Homo sapiens: one gene and its partners. The protein of the gene in region 2 interacts with the protein of the main gene of each other region in a pairwise test. Each region holds a gene or a part of one and is shown on either strand. Other genes may lie near its edges.

What was found. The genes of interacting proteins can lie anywhere in the genome.
Region 1: the proteins of TMEM132D (region 2) and STK39 interact in a two-hybrid assay, tested with the Homo sapiens proteins (one large-scale study listed by BioGRID).
Region 3: the proteins of TMEM132D (region 2) and PGM1 interact in a two-hybrid assay, tested with the Homo sapiens proteins (one large-scale study listed by BioGRID).
Region 4: the proteins of TMEM132D (region 2) and NPAS3 interact in a two-hybrid assay, tested with the Homo sapiens proteins (one large-scale study listed by BioGRID).

Annotation. Positions count from the first base shown.
Region 1 is NC_000002.12:168,241,096-168,244,595, reverse strand, and holds part of STK39 (STE20/SPS1-related proline-alanine-rich protein kinase), read left to right. Parts: intron 1-3,500. UniProt on the Homo sapiens protein: Effector serine/threonine-protein kinase component of the WNK-SPAK/OSR1 kinase cascade, which is involved in various processes, such as ion transport, response to hypertonic stress and blood pressure.
Region 2 is NC_000012.12:129,071,102-129,075,175, reverse strand, and holds the end of TMEM132D (transmembrane protein 132D precursor), read left to right. Parts: intron 1-100; exon of another isoform or gene 101-116; coding exon 117-1,301; 3' UTR 1,302-3,450; downstream 3,451-4,074. UniProt on the Homo sapiens protein: Regulate neuronals morphology via inhibition of the WAVE regulatory complex (WCR), a complex that controls F-actin cytoskeletal dynamics.
Region 3 is NC_000001.11:63,655,911-63,659,410, forward strand, and holds part of PGM1 (phosphoglucomutase-1), read left to right. Parts: intron 1-3,500. UniProt on the Homo sapiens protein: Catalyzes the reversible isomerization of alpha-D-glucose 1-phosphate to alpha-D-glucose 6-phosphate. The mechanism proceeds via the intermediate compound alpha-D-glucose 1,6-bisphosphate.
Region 4 is NC_000014.9:33,767,879-33,771,378, reverse strand, and holds part of NPAS3 (neuronal PAS domain-containing protein 3), read right to left. Parts: intron 1-3,500.

The sequences.
Region 1 (3,500 bases), on a different chromosome or scaffold from region 2:
TTTTGCTTAAACATTACACGCAGAAGTTAGCAGTTCAAACACTGAACCAGTTTCAACATGAATGCCAGTTGACAGCCTTTGCTTCTACCCGCCATACGGCAGGTGTCATATGATATGACTCCAGCAGTGTGAACCGTGACCAGCAGCAGGAGGCTCAGATGTGCCTGAACAGAAAACCAAAGGAGGCACCGTGTTTTAACTTTCCAGCATGGCACGGGCACGGAGGACTTTTTCTTCATTTCCTTCTGGGCAGAGTTTGGTCCCCCAGGATTAAGAGAGAATAAGTTTACTAAAATCCAAACAAAGCAGGTTCAGTTGTTTGACTTCAGTTTTAGAAAAATAAACACAGGATTTTGCAAACCTAAAAATAAAGTTTTCTCTTTATTGTATTGTTGTTCTTGTGTTTTAAAACGTCAGTGGAGAAATTGTAATGCTCTTAGGAGTATTCTGGTTCATAAGTTTATTCATGACCTGGAAATGATGTAAAATCGATGGGAGGGAGCTTTATATTTACAGAGGGGTTAAAAATGTTGGAAATTATTAAATTCCTTCTTCCAGACATTGATATCCTTGTCTTAGTAGATTTCAAATATTTCTGTCTTTTTGGAGGCTTTCCGACCTGTTTATACTCTTCAGCCTTGTTAATCTTTGTTCCTTACCTCTCTAAAGAAGGAATTTGGGGGTGAGTTGAGCCCCCAAAAGTAGGTACCCCTACCTTTAGAAGTATAAGGGGCACTTAAAGCTATGCCAGTTGAAAACTTAGTTTATTTGTTGGGGGTGTTAATAATATTACCTAGATTTGCTAAACAGGGAATGAAAGTGAATCATATAAGTGTTTACTTGGCCATCCGTAATGGAATGGAGCAGCCTCAATGAACTTCTCATTCAAAGAATTGTAGTCATTGAAGTACTAATTTCTGTATTTGAATTAGGTGATTCCAGCAATGTTGTTATCTTTGCTGAATTTCTTCTGAGAAACCCTAGACTCCTGCCTCAGCAGGAGTTTGTTTGATTTTCTTAGGGTTTTTGCAGGATGCACCTTTCTTTATGTAGTTTTATACTAGATTTCTCAGCATTGCTTCACTTTTGTCCCGGGTGGTCATTTAGAATGACCTAAAAGTAACAAATTGCCATCTTAGTCAACACGAAGAATTTGAGTTCTAGAATCCTGGACATGGTTTGACAGAGGGTTCCTTTGAATGCTTTATTTCTCTCCTGTGAGGCATTGTTTATCCATTCAGGTGCGTTTTACTCAGGTCCAGGTAATAGCACATATGGCCAGGTCTTTAAGGAGCAACAGCCTCTTGTAAAATGAGATTGTAAATAGCCCTGGGCATTCCCACTTTGCTCTGTGCTCTCAGAGTTTCTGTGGATTTCTATGGTTTGGGGGTTAGAATTGGTTTTTATAGATATCCTAGAGGCAGTTTGAGGACAGTGGTACCTTCGCTGGCGCTAGGGTAAGGGAGCCGGAGCACTGAGTGTGTTCTGATCTCCCAGACCTTTATACCAGGCTGCCTTGCTGCTGCAGTGGGTTCTTTGATCTTGATTAGTTTGTTTGTTGTTGTTTTTAAAATACTAAATGATGTCTGAAATGCTTTGTCTCAAGACAGGGCTTTGATTTTCATTTCATTTCACTTTCTTTTTTAATAAATAGAAAAATGTATATAGAAATGTTCTTTTGTATTTTGTATTTTTTTTTTTTTGATAAAGGGTCTCACTCTGTCACCCAGGCTAGAGTGCAGTGGTGCAATCATACCTCACTGCAGCCTCGAACTCTTGGGCTCAAGTGATCTTCCCACATCAGCCTCCTGAGTAGCTGGGTCTATAGGTGCAAACCATCATGCCTGCCTAATTTTTTTTTTCTTTTTTTATTTTTAAGAAATGGGGGTCTCACTATGTTGCCCAAGCTGCTCTTGAACTCCTCCGCTCAGCGATGCTCCGGCCTTGGCTTCCCAATGTGTTGGGATTACAGGCGTGAGCCACTGTGCCTGGCCTCTTTATATATATATATATATATATATATATATATATATATTTTTTTTTTTTTTTGTAAGAGTCTTGCTCTGTTGCCTGGGCTAGATTGCAGTGGCGCCATCTCAGTTCACTGCAGCCTCTGCCTCCTAGGTCCAAGCAGTTCTCCTGCCTCAGCCTCCCGAGTAGCTAGTATTACAGGCCTGGCTAATTTTTGTATTTTTTGATAGAAACAGGGTTTCACCATGTTGGCCAGGCTGGTCACAAACTCCTGGTCTGAAGTAACCCGCCTGCCTCAGCCTCCCAAGTTGCTGGGATTACAGCGTGAGTCACTGTGCCCGGCCTCTTTTGTATTATTTTTATTGTGGTAAAATATACACAACAAAAATTGTACCATTTTAACCGTTCTTAAAGTGTGCAATTCAGTAGCATTAATTATATTTACAAGATAAATACTCTTTTAAATGTGCTGTCATGGGGCTGGGGGGAGAGATCTCAAGATCTCTCTTGAAACTGTGGTAAAGTGACTGCAATCCTTTATTTATGCATTTGATTTTTAACTAGTGATATTATGAATTCTTCCCTGACTTTTATGGTTTATTGTATAGTACATTTTGTGATGGTGTTTGAAAATAAGTTGCAGCAGTGCCGGCTCTGGAGTCTGACAGCCTGGCCTGTTTCATGTCCTGCAATGGCGGTCACTGACGCTGCGACCTTGAGCAAATGACTTAGATGTGTCTGCACTCAGTTTCCTCATTGGTAACATAGGGATGATAAAAATAGGGTTGTGAGGAATGAGAGAATGTAAAGCACTGAGAATCGTGCCTGGCACACAGCATGCTTTCAATTAGTCTTAGCCATAACTTCTATAGACTTCATTTGCTAATCAGATGCAAGTTATCAGGAGAGAACACAGTCCTATCTTTGGCAGGATTCTGGAGTGGCTTGAAGATTTCTGTGCTATGTTTCTAGCAGGGAGGAAGTGGGAAAGAGAGGTTGTTCCCTATTCCCACTCTTGTGCTGGGCTGCTGGAAGGGGCTTACAAGGGGAGAGGCCCCTGGGGATCTGGCTTCCCCTTGCACCTCCACTGCTGTGGGAGGAAACTGAAGAGACCTGTGGAGCTCCTGGCAATTTGGACAGCTCAGGGGTTTAGGTGCCAAATGGCCCTCTGACAAGTGATGAGAGCATCCTGCGGGAAGGTTGCTGAAGAGGAGCAGCCCATTATGAGAGGGCTCCGAGAACAACCTGCTAGGACTGCACTTTTCCTCCACCTCTGAGTTTGCCCGGAGGCTGCCATGCTGGCAGGAAATGCTGCTGACTAAAAGAAACGCTCCCTGTGTGTCCCAGCCAGTGCGAGGACAGAGGCCTTCATTTTCAGATAAAGTCATCACCATTGCTTCCCTGTCTCCTTCTTTCCCTCTTTGCTTTTCCCTCAGTTTATAAATATTCTCAAGCCTGTCTCTTATGTTTAAATGACAAAAGAGAACAAAACAAAACACTCTCCCTACTTCTTTCTCCTCTGGCTACTC
Region 2 (4,074 bases):
AGGTTTGTCTTTGTTCTTGTAGCAATAGTTTTGCCGTTGTGTGTCTACTGTACTAAGACTTGGGGCTCAATGAGCTTTTTGGCCCATTTGATTAACTTACATATTTTTCTCCATAGGAAGCAGCCATCAGTTGCTGGGTCCAGTTCAGTGATGGCTCAGTCACGCCCTTGGATATTTACGATGGGAAAGACTTCTCCTTGATGGCCACATCTTTGGATGAGAAGGTAGTCTCCATCCACCAAGACCCCAAATTCAAGTGGCCTATCATTGCTGCGGAAACAGAAGGACAAGGCACCCTGGTCAAGGTGGAAATGGTTATTAGTGAATCCTGCCAGAAATCCAAGCGGAAGAGTGTGTTAGCTGTTGGAACGGCAAACATCAAAGTTAAATTTGGCCAAAACGATGCTAACCCCAACACCAGTGACAGCAGACACACAGGGGCAGGGGTTCACATGGAAAACAATGTCAGTGACAGAAGGCCCAAAAAACCCTCGCAGGAATGGGGGAGTCAGGAAGGACAGTACTATGGCAGTTCTTCTATGGGACTCATGGAGGGACGGGGCACCACGACAGACAGGTCCATCCTGCAGAAGAAGAAAGGCCAGGAAAGCCTTTTAGATGACAACAGCCACTTGCAGACCATCCCCAGCGACCTCACCAGCTTCCCAGCCCAGGTGGACCTCCCCAGAAGCAATGGGGAAATGGATGGGAATGACCTTATGCAGGCATCCAAAGGGCTGAGCGACTTAGAAATTGGGATGTATGCTTTGTTGGGAGTCTTCTGTTTGGCCATTTTGGTCTTCTTGATAAACTGTGTGACCTTTGCATTAAAATACAGACACAAACAGGTTCCCTTCGAGGAGCAGGAAGGGATGAGTCACTCTCATGACTGGGTTGGGTTAAGCAACCGGACAGAGCTGTTGGAGAATCACATCAACTTTGCCTCCTCGCAAGATGAGCAAATCACTGCCATTGACAGGGGCATGGATTTCGAGGAAAGTAAATATCTCCTCAGCACAAACTCCCAAAAAAGCATCAATGGGCAGCTGTTCAAACCTTTGGGACCCATCATCATTGATGGGAAAGATCAGAAAAGTGAGCCCCCAACATCCCCTACCTCAAAAAGGAAAAGGGTAAAATTTACCACCTTCACCGCCGTCTCCTCAGACGACGAGTACCCCACCAGGAACTCCATCGTGATGAGTAGCGAGGATGACATTAAGTGGGTCTGCCAGGATCTGGACCCTGGGGACTGCAAAGAGCTGCACAACTACATGGAGAGGTTACATGAAAATGTGTAAGCCAGACACACACAGACATTGGTTCTCACTCACCTTTCAGCCTTTAATTCCAGGATGTGTAGCAACGGTGCCCCCGGAAGAGAAACAAAGCAGCAGGACAAAATAAGGATGACACTATCCATACAGCCTCAGCCAATGACCCCGGCTCGGCGGCGAGGCCTGGAGTCCGCATCGACGCACACATTCCAGAGTACAGTGTCTTGCTTAAGAGGTTTATCATGCATGGCAAGATTTTTAAGACTTGAAACAAAAACGAGTTCTGAATCACTGAGCGTCTGAGAGCGTCCAGGAAAGAACAGCCTCTCTCTCTCGAATCAAAGCAATTTGGATATTGTAAAATCCACATGGCTCCAATATTCAATATTGCAGACTATGGAAGAAAAGTACAACTCAGGTGGAGCATCCATGGATCGCATCCATGGATCAATGGGAGGAAGCGTGTCATCGAAACTGGAGCAGCACATCTTGCTGTGAGCGCGATCACAGGCAGTCCAGTGCCGCCGTCAGCTGTGGGAGGCATGATTGTGAGTCATTGTCTCTCAAAGGCTGGGCCAGAGCTGTCTCAGATCATGGACAGGCCAAGGAAGTGGCTGACAAGGACTGAAAGGGAACATGTGGGCTAACAGGCCACAAATACCTTTGTAACTACATGCCAAGGACAAACACATGGACGCAAATCCTCTGAGCCCTTCAGGGTACTTCTTTATTTGTAAACTAAGGATACTGGGCATAGAATTTGAATCAGGTTCAAAGAACCACGCTCTTTTGATTCATATCAAGTTCACAATGTATCCATTTCTATTCCTCCACTGCATTGCCATCCTCCCCAAAGCCGTTGGTCACCTGTGGGTGGGGGAGGGAGAGGGCAGTTTGTAGTATTTGCTGGGTCTTTTTTCTCCCCCTGGGTTTTGTGTCAACTCCCAAGTGACATTCTGTAGAGAAGCTCCCCCCGCAACCTGGGCATATGTCCCACGCCGTCCGTCTTTGAAGAGGCTGGTCTCTAGGCATGGGCGGTAGTCACGGTGAATTCCATACCAGGGGATATACATTCCCTTGCTTTACTAGAAAGAAAACAGGGCCACTTGGGATGGGTCTTTCACTGTTCATGGCAGATCTCCTGTCCAAAGATGTGGCCTCGAGGCTGTTGAGACAAATCGGGGTGCCTGTGTGGAACGTGCAGGGCGTGTGGAGTTGGGGGGGTTCTGGGTGTGAAAGTGGTGGATCCAGCAGGAAGCCCAGCCTCACACACACCGGACAGCACAGAAACCTTCTTCATCTTGGAGGTGCGAAGGGATAAGGGGCATCAGTGCATGTGGTGAAGATGCAGGTTTGCAAGCACTTGGTCCTGCAGTCAGCCCCGAAAGGTTCAGCATTGCTTAAGACCAGCCATGACTCTGGATATCCCTGAATCCCTTCACTTATGAAGCCTATGAAGATGGGGGCAAGGATACATCAGAGAATTCCTGCCTCATCTCACGCTCACTCCAAGGTAGAGAATGGTGTGTTGGGTGATTGCCAGCCAGATAGGATCCTGCAAAAGATGGTCGGGGGCAGCGGGTGGTGGGCAGAAGAGGCCGTGCTGTTGAATTGATCTTCTATTTTTCCCTCTGGTCATTTTCTCTCTCTCTCTGCTCTTCAGTTGTCTGTTTTCCAGTCTCTCTGTGTGTCTGTCTCTGTATCTCTCTCCTCCTTTGAACCTATCTTCTCCCTGCTTCCTCTCCATCTCATCTCTGTAATTTTGAGTGTGTGTCTTTACTCCTTCTTCCTCTCCATAGAATTGAATTCTCTTTAGATCATGTGTGTGTAAATTTCACCAGTTTACCCTCCCAACCTTAGCCCTCTCCCCTGCAACTGTGGTGCTCTTGAGACTGAGGTTTCTGCAGCCAGTAAGTCACCTGCTCCTGTCCGCAAGCTTACCTACCTTGTTTGGTTGGGTGATTAAGCTGTCACCCCTTTTCAATGAGAATCCTTTGCTTTCAGTAACGTCCTCATATTTCTTTCCATTCTTACCTGTGTCATGTTCTGTTGAATACTGCAGCCGCTGCCCGCTTCCAAATCCATCTGCGTGTAGAATGTACTGTAGATTGTAAGAATGTAATATATATTTATAAACTTACTGACTGTAAATATAAAGTTTGCATTCAGTGGCTTTATGGCTGTCCTTTGTCTTCTACACGCTGACCCCCTCCAAGGGGCTGGCATCAATTGCAAATGGCTCTGCAAATGCTGCAGCTCTAAATGAAATGCTGATTGAAGGATCCCAGCACAATCCAGTTCCACCTTTACATCGTGTAGTGCTGCTCCCTGCATTGAGGGGATGTTGACACGTGATGACAAAGTGCATTGTGTACCAAGTATCTCTCCTCCAGGACCTGAAAGGATTTGCAAATAAATCACACGTGCAATTCTCTCCTAAAAGCCTGCTGACTGATGGTGGTAAGTAAGTGGAAACTGTGGCAGGCAAGCATGCATTCCAGCCTCCTTTTGGGCTGAGGTGAGGAAAATTCTCTGTCCTTCCTTTGGGTCTCGAGTGTACATACAACAACTCTGGACTGGGTTAAAAAGTTGATTGTAGATTCCTTTATCAACTGCAGCCCCAAGACAATTCTACGAAACAAGAAGATGCATGGAATCCTTATATTCATGCAAACAATAGCAAGTGATTGATAGGTCAATCATTTATTCAGCCAGTATTTACTGAGCAGCTACTCTACTCTGTAGCAGGAATAGCTGTGAGCACTAGAGACAGAGTCACACATACAGCAAATGCACA
Region 3 (3,500 bases), on a different chromosome or scaffold from region 2:
CAGGTTGCATAAGGAGGGGTGAACCGGCCCAAGTTGGAAACAGAGCAGGTCAAAACTCCCATGCCGATGAGTAGTGGGATTGCACCTGTGAATACCCACTGCGCTTCAGCCTGGTGACATAGCAAGACCCCATCTCTAAAAAAAGAAAAGGAAAGAAAAAAAGAGGGTGCTGAGAAGACTTGCAGTAAAGGTGCCTGTTTACATAGCATTTGCTGAAGGACATTTCTCCAAAGAAAACATACAAATGGCCAACAGGCGTATGAAAAGGTGGTCCACATCACTAATCATCAGGGAAATGAAAATCAAAACCACAATGAGCTGTCACCTCACACCTGTTAGGATGGCTGTTCTCAAAAAGACAAAAGATAACAAGTGTTGGGAAGGATGTGGAGAAAAGGGAACCATCAGACACTATTGGTGGGAATATAAATTGGTATAGCTATTTTGGAATAACCAAAATATGGAGGTTCCTCAAAAAGTTAAAAATATTTTAGTACTAATATACGATCCAGTAATCCCTCTTCTGGGTATATATTCAGAGGAACTGAAATAAATATGTCAAAGAGATATCTGTTCTCTCTTGTTCATTCAATATTATTCACAATAGTCAAGATATGGAACCAGCCTAAGTGCCCATCTACAGATGAATGAAGACATTGTGGTGTGTGTGTGTGTGTGTGTGTGTGTGTGTGTGTGTATACCACAATGGAAAATTATTCTGCCTTAAAACAACAAAAACCAAAATCTTGCCAATCTTGCCATTTGCAATAACATGGATGAACCTGGAGGACATTATGCTAAGTGAAATAAGCCAGACACAGAAAGGCAAATACTGCATGATTTCACTTGTATGTGGGATCTAAAAAAAGTGAATCTCATAGAAACAGAGCAGAAAGGGGCTTACTAGGGGGTAGTGAATGGGGAAAATGGAGAGATATTGGTCCAAAGGGTACAAAATTTCAGTTATGTAGGATGTAGCAGTTCTAGAGATGGAATGTACAACATGATGGCTATAATGAATAACACTTGAAATGTACTAGGAGAATAGATCTTAATTGTTCTCACTATCACCACCACAACAAAAAAGGTAAGTAGGTGACAAGATTGATAATGTTAGTTGGCTTGACTCTAGTAATCAGTTCACTATGTATTTGTATATCAAGACATCATATTATATACCTTAAACATAAACAATTTTTATTAAAAAATTGAAAGTAAAATAAAATAAATAGCATTTGCCATGCTTATTTTTCCACAAAGGCTTTTTTCTTTTAACACCTAATTAAAATCCTGTGAAACTCATTTGGAAACCCCTGGCATAGTGGTTTTGAGCAAAGTTAAAGAGATCTTGTTTTAAATTCTATTCCTGCCACTTAATAACTGTGTGTCCCTGGGTAAGTTGTTACAATTTTATGAATCTTGGTTTCCTTGTCTGTCAAATGGCAGAGTAATACCTACTTCATCTAGTTGTTACCGGGGTTTAAGGAGATAATAAATGTAAAATGTTTAAACACTGTGGCTGGCATATAGGATTAACTTTTCAGAATAAGCAGCACTCTTAGTTTTTTTAGTCTAACTTTAAGTGTAACATAATGCTATTATAACCATTTTTAAGTATATAGTTTAGTAATGTTGTACATATTCATATTGTTGTCCAACGTATCTCTAAAACTTTTTTCCCCCAAAACTAAAACTCTGTACCCATTGAACAGCACCTCCCTGCTTCTCCCTTTTCACAATCCCTGGTACCACCTTTCTCCTTCCTGTGTCTGTGAATTTGACCATTGTAGGTACCTCACATGAGTAGTATAGTTGCTTTTATTACAGAAAGTGGGAGATGAGAGAATGCTTCACTTTTACATTTTTTCCAGTGGCCAGGCCCCAGTTTCAGTCATCACCAGTACCTTGTTGTGTTGTAGGCATCCCTAAAACTTCAACCAAAGGCAATGGGGTCTGCATTATAGACACTTAATAGCACAAGAGAAAAGGAAGAAGGAAATTGTGTTTGTCTTTTGATCATCAAGATAAATGCCTGGCACGTGGTAGATTCAAAGAGTGAATGAAATTTGTTTCCTCTGAACCATAGTCCTCAGCAGGTGGAATGGCAGTGGATGGTGTGAGGTTCCCACAATGCCCAGGTGTATCACCATCTAGCCGGGGAGCTGCCTTTCCTTATTCTGCAGCTGCTAGGCCATCAGCACTTTGTGGGGACTGCCCAAGCCCTAAGGGGAAATGTGGTAGTTTCAGCAGGTGGAGTTGATTCTCCTTTTCCAGGTATAATGGATCGGTGGAGATTTAGATAAGAAAAAGTAGCATTCAGCAGTAGAAAATGTACTACTCCTGGCTCTGCTATTGAGTCATTTAGTCAAATCACTTCATCTCTTTGGGTATCAGTTTTCTCATCTGTAAAATGGGCAGTTCAACCAGATTAGTAGTTTTTTTTTTTTTTTAATATTGAAAGCATTTATTAAGCAACAGAATTCTCTCTTTTTTTTTTTTTTCTTTAAGCGAGAAGTAGATGTGGGGAGGGGTTGTTGCATTTTTAAAGATTCCTGTATTAGGCCGGGTGCGGTGGCTCACGCCTGTAATCCCAACACTTTGGGAGGCCAAGGCAGGCAGATCACCTGAGGTCGGGAGTTCAAGACCAGCCTGACCAACATGGAGAAACCCCATCTCTACTAAAAATACAAAATTAGCCGGGCGTGGTGGCGCATGCCTGTAATCCCAGTCACTAGAGAGGCTGAGGCAGGAGAATTGCTTGAACCTGGGAGCCAGAGATTGTGGTGAGCCAAGATCGCAGCATTGCACTCCAGCCTGGGCAACAAGAGTGAAACTCCATCTCAAAAAAAAAAAAAAAAGATTCCTGTATTAGTCTGTTTTCACACTGCTGATAAAGACATACCTGAGACTGGGCAATTTACAAAAGAAAGAGGTTTAATTGGACTTACACTTCACGTGGCTGGGGAAGCCTCACAATCATGGTGGAAGGCAAGAAAGAGCAAGTCATGTCTTACATGAATGGCAGCAGGCAAAAGAGAGAAATTGTGCAGGGAAACTCCTGTTTTTAAAACCATTAGATCTCATGAGACCCATTCACTATCATGAGAACAGCACAGAAAAGACCCACCCCCATGATTCAATCATCTCCCACCGGGTCCCTCCCACAACACTTGGGAATTATGGGAGCTACAAGATGAGATTTGAGTGGGGACACAGAGCCAAACCACATCAGTCCCATTGGGAACAGTGTGGGAAAGAAATTGGAAGATGCACAAGTGGATGTGGAGGCACTCACTGCTCCAGGTAAGAGACAGGACATTGACTTAGCAAGACTTAACAGCAGGAGAGTGGAGAGAAAAGGGGGCCATGGAGAGAGATTTAGCGGGGAAAAGTCATTGAGGCCTGCTCATGGACTGGGCATGGGGAAAATGCAGAGGAAGATGTCAGGAGCAACTCCTAGTTGTTCACTTTACATGAAAGACTGTAGTGTTGATCCACTG
Region 4 (3,500 bases), on a different chromosome or scaffold from region 2:
GTCAAGAAATGTCAAAGAACAATCAGAGGGTGTGTTTGTCTGTCTGTGTGTATGTGTGGGTTTGAGGGAGGGTGGAATTGAAGAGAAGAAAGGGATATCTGTTAGATCCCACAATTTTTAGGTTTAAATTAACATATTTTTTTCCAAATTCATTTCATAATGCCAACAGAGCTTTTTTTCCTCAGGTGACAGGTTATGTTCAAATTTCAGAAACAAGTCTGACAGCATGTATCCAAACATGTAGATCGCTGAATTTTTCATTTTATAGTTGCCTTTAAGGCCTGAGATGTACAGAAAAGAATATTGTCAAGATGGCCTGGGTTCAAATCCTAGCTCTGGCACTTAATAGCCGCACAACTGTGATACTAAGACAATTGAAATGACTTGCTTTGTTTCCAGGTTAGTATATCAAAGATTTAAAACCTAGTACAAAAAAATAAGTGTGTTGCAAAGATTTTTTGTTTTGTTTTGTTTTGAGATGGAGTCTTACTCACTCTGTAGTCCAGGCTGGAGTGCGGTGGTGTGATCTCGGCTCACTGCAACCACCGTCTCCCAGGTTCAAGCAGTTCTCCTGCCTCAGCCTCCCGAGTTGCTGGGATTACAGGCATGCACCACCATGCACAGCTAATTTTTGTATTTTTAGTAGAGACTGGGTTTTACCATGTTGGCCAGGCTGGTCCTGAACTCCTGACCTCAATTGATATGCCCACCTCGGCCTCCCAAAGTGCTGGGATTACTGTGCCTGGCAGTTCTTTTTTTCTGAATAAAGTTAACAAAAGGTATTTTCCTGGTTCTTTAGTTTCTAAGACACATAATCTATGAGGGACCTTGCTAGGTGCCAGGAAGCTGACCAAGGTAAATCAAATGTAAATCTGTCCTCAAAGAGTTTACAGACTGTAAGTTGGGGGAAGACATCTATAATTATTTCTAATATTGCCATAAGAGGGAGATGATTCAGTATCTGATCAAGAAAGGGGGTTTTGATCCTGGTTATGTGACAGAGTCACTTGCGAAGCTTTGTTAACATGTGAATTCCCAGACTCTATCCCCCAGAGTTCTAATTTGATAGGATTGGGTTACAGTCCAGCATTTGTTTGCATTTTAAAGCTTCAGAGGTGATACTAACTACCTGAGAATATCTGGCAAATGGGTTTGCAGTTACACCAGTGGTTCTCAACCATGGCTACACATTGGAATAAACCAGCAAGTCTTGAAAAGTCCCCCTGTCCCGGCTGTACCTGAGACCTGTTAAATCTGGATCTCAGGTGGTGGGGCACTGGCATCAATATTCATAGACATTTTTAAAGTTTTCCAGGCTGGGCATTGTGGCTCACACCTGTAACCCCAGTGCTTTGGGAGCCTCAGGGAGGAGGATTGCTTGAGCCCAGGAGTTCAAGACCAGCTTGGGCAACATAGGGAGACTCCCATCTCTACAAAAAATGAAAAAATTAGCTGGGCATATTGGTTCATGTCTTTGGCCCCAGCTACTTGGAGGCTGAGGTTTGAGGATTGCTTGAACCTAGGAGATGGATGCTGCAGTGAGCCGTGATTCCGCCACTGCACGCCAGCCTGGATGACAGAGCAAGATCTTGTCTCAAAAAAAAAAAAAAAAAAAAAAAAAAGAAAAAAAAAATCCAAGTCTTTCAGGGCTGGTTGGAGGGAATGAAAATGTGTGCAAAGTGCCTAGGTATAATGCCTGATGTGTATTATATGCTCAACAAATACTGTTTGATTAATTAACAAGCATGTTCCATAAGAAAGGTTTGGAATAAGATCTTCAGGAGTTCAGGGTAGGAAGAAAATACTTTCAGCTGAATGGATCCAGGAACATTTCAATTGGTGTCAGCAGGAGAAAAGACAGAGATGGGGCCCAGATGGCAGTACAATCAATGGAAATTGGCAATGGGACCTGAGGAGAAGAGCTGGTATCATAATTTTTGTGCCTGTCCCACAGGACGATGACGACAATAGACTAAATGGTAAATGGTAACCAAATGGTAACCAGTGGAGACAAAGATGATTTCCCTGTGAACAGTTTGTACTTGAGCAGCCTGGGAAGATCCTGGAGAAGGTGTTCAGGGGATAGTCGAAAATAAGAGTTAGGCACTTAAGTGATGATAGTTGAAGGTATAGTTCTGGAAGGTTATTTTTTTTTCTTCCTGGAGGTGATAATTAAAACCAAGAAATTCAATAGAATTGCCAAAGGAGAAAACATACATAAGAGTGCCAAAGGCATTTTTACCCACTTTGAGTAGCTGAAGCCTCAGGCAACTTATGTTTTTGTTTTTTGTTATTCTCTAAATTGAGGTCCTCTTGCTCTAGAATAATTTTGTTTAAAAAATAGCACTTTTCTGAAAGCTCTTAAGCACCCTTTTTCTCCATCCACAATTCCATTCTAACATAAATGCCAGGCTTGCCATACCACCACCAATCCCAGTGCTAACATATCAAAGAATGGATATGGCTTCCTTGTAAAGTTAAGTAGGTGAATGTAAAATGATGGTGAATACAAATATATAAGCCTAGATTCTAATATGTCAAGAGCCATGAAACTATAAAAAGAATCTACTTTAAAATGAAAGGAATATTGGTGGGGGGCGGTAAAAATAACATTGTATTGGGAAACAGAACATCTGTTTTCAGTCCTGGTTCTGGTAACTTTGGCAAGTCTTCTAGCTTGGTGAGGGTAGGATTTCCTCAGATATAAAATGGTGTCAAAGAATCAGGCAATGATGCCTACAATTCTCACTCATCTCTAGGGAGTTCTATAACCAAATGTCTAATGGAGTGGCACTTCCTGTGCTGTAGCATTACCCCACCTCCTCCTTTACAGCCCCATAGTGGGGGCAGGAGTTTCAGAATACAGCTGCAAATTGATAAATTCAGCTTAATAATTCATTAGTAGGGATCTTATAGATCATATTTGAATTGAAATAAGCTTTGGTTCTGGCCAATGCTGGGTAAAAGCTGCCTCAGTGTTCAAAAAGTTCATCTTAATCTGGTCTTAAATCTCATCTACAGACATTCTTCAGAAGAGCTTTCTGAACTAAAAGATTCTTTGCCCCTGAGCTCAGTGTTACATAAGAGCTCGATCCTCATGTTTCCTTTCATTGTTCCTGTTTTATCACAAAAAGCTGTACAAAAATGCTAAAGCTCATATTTTTCTAAACTCCTTACACAGCACTGCCCGGATGCCAGCAACAGTGAAGCAGAATGCACAAGATTACTGAGTTGAAATCCCATCATCTTTGATAAAAATGTCCACATTAGCATTATTTGATCATCCCATAGTGAGGAAATCATTGTTTGACTTTTATTTTTCTTCTCTGCTGCAAGGAGTGACTGTGTGTGATGCTGTTAGATGCATGTCCGCAGAGTTTAGGATGAATGTGGGAGTGTTAACAAGCCACATTATTTGGGCAAATGTATATTTCTGTTCCTGCCATATGCTCCTTTCAGTTTTCTGTTGGTGATACACTCTTAGATGTGCTCCACTAATA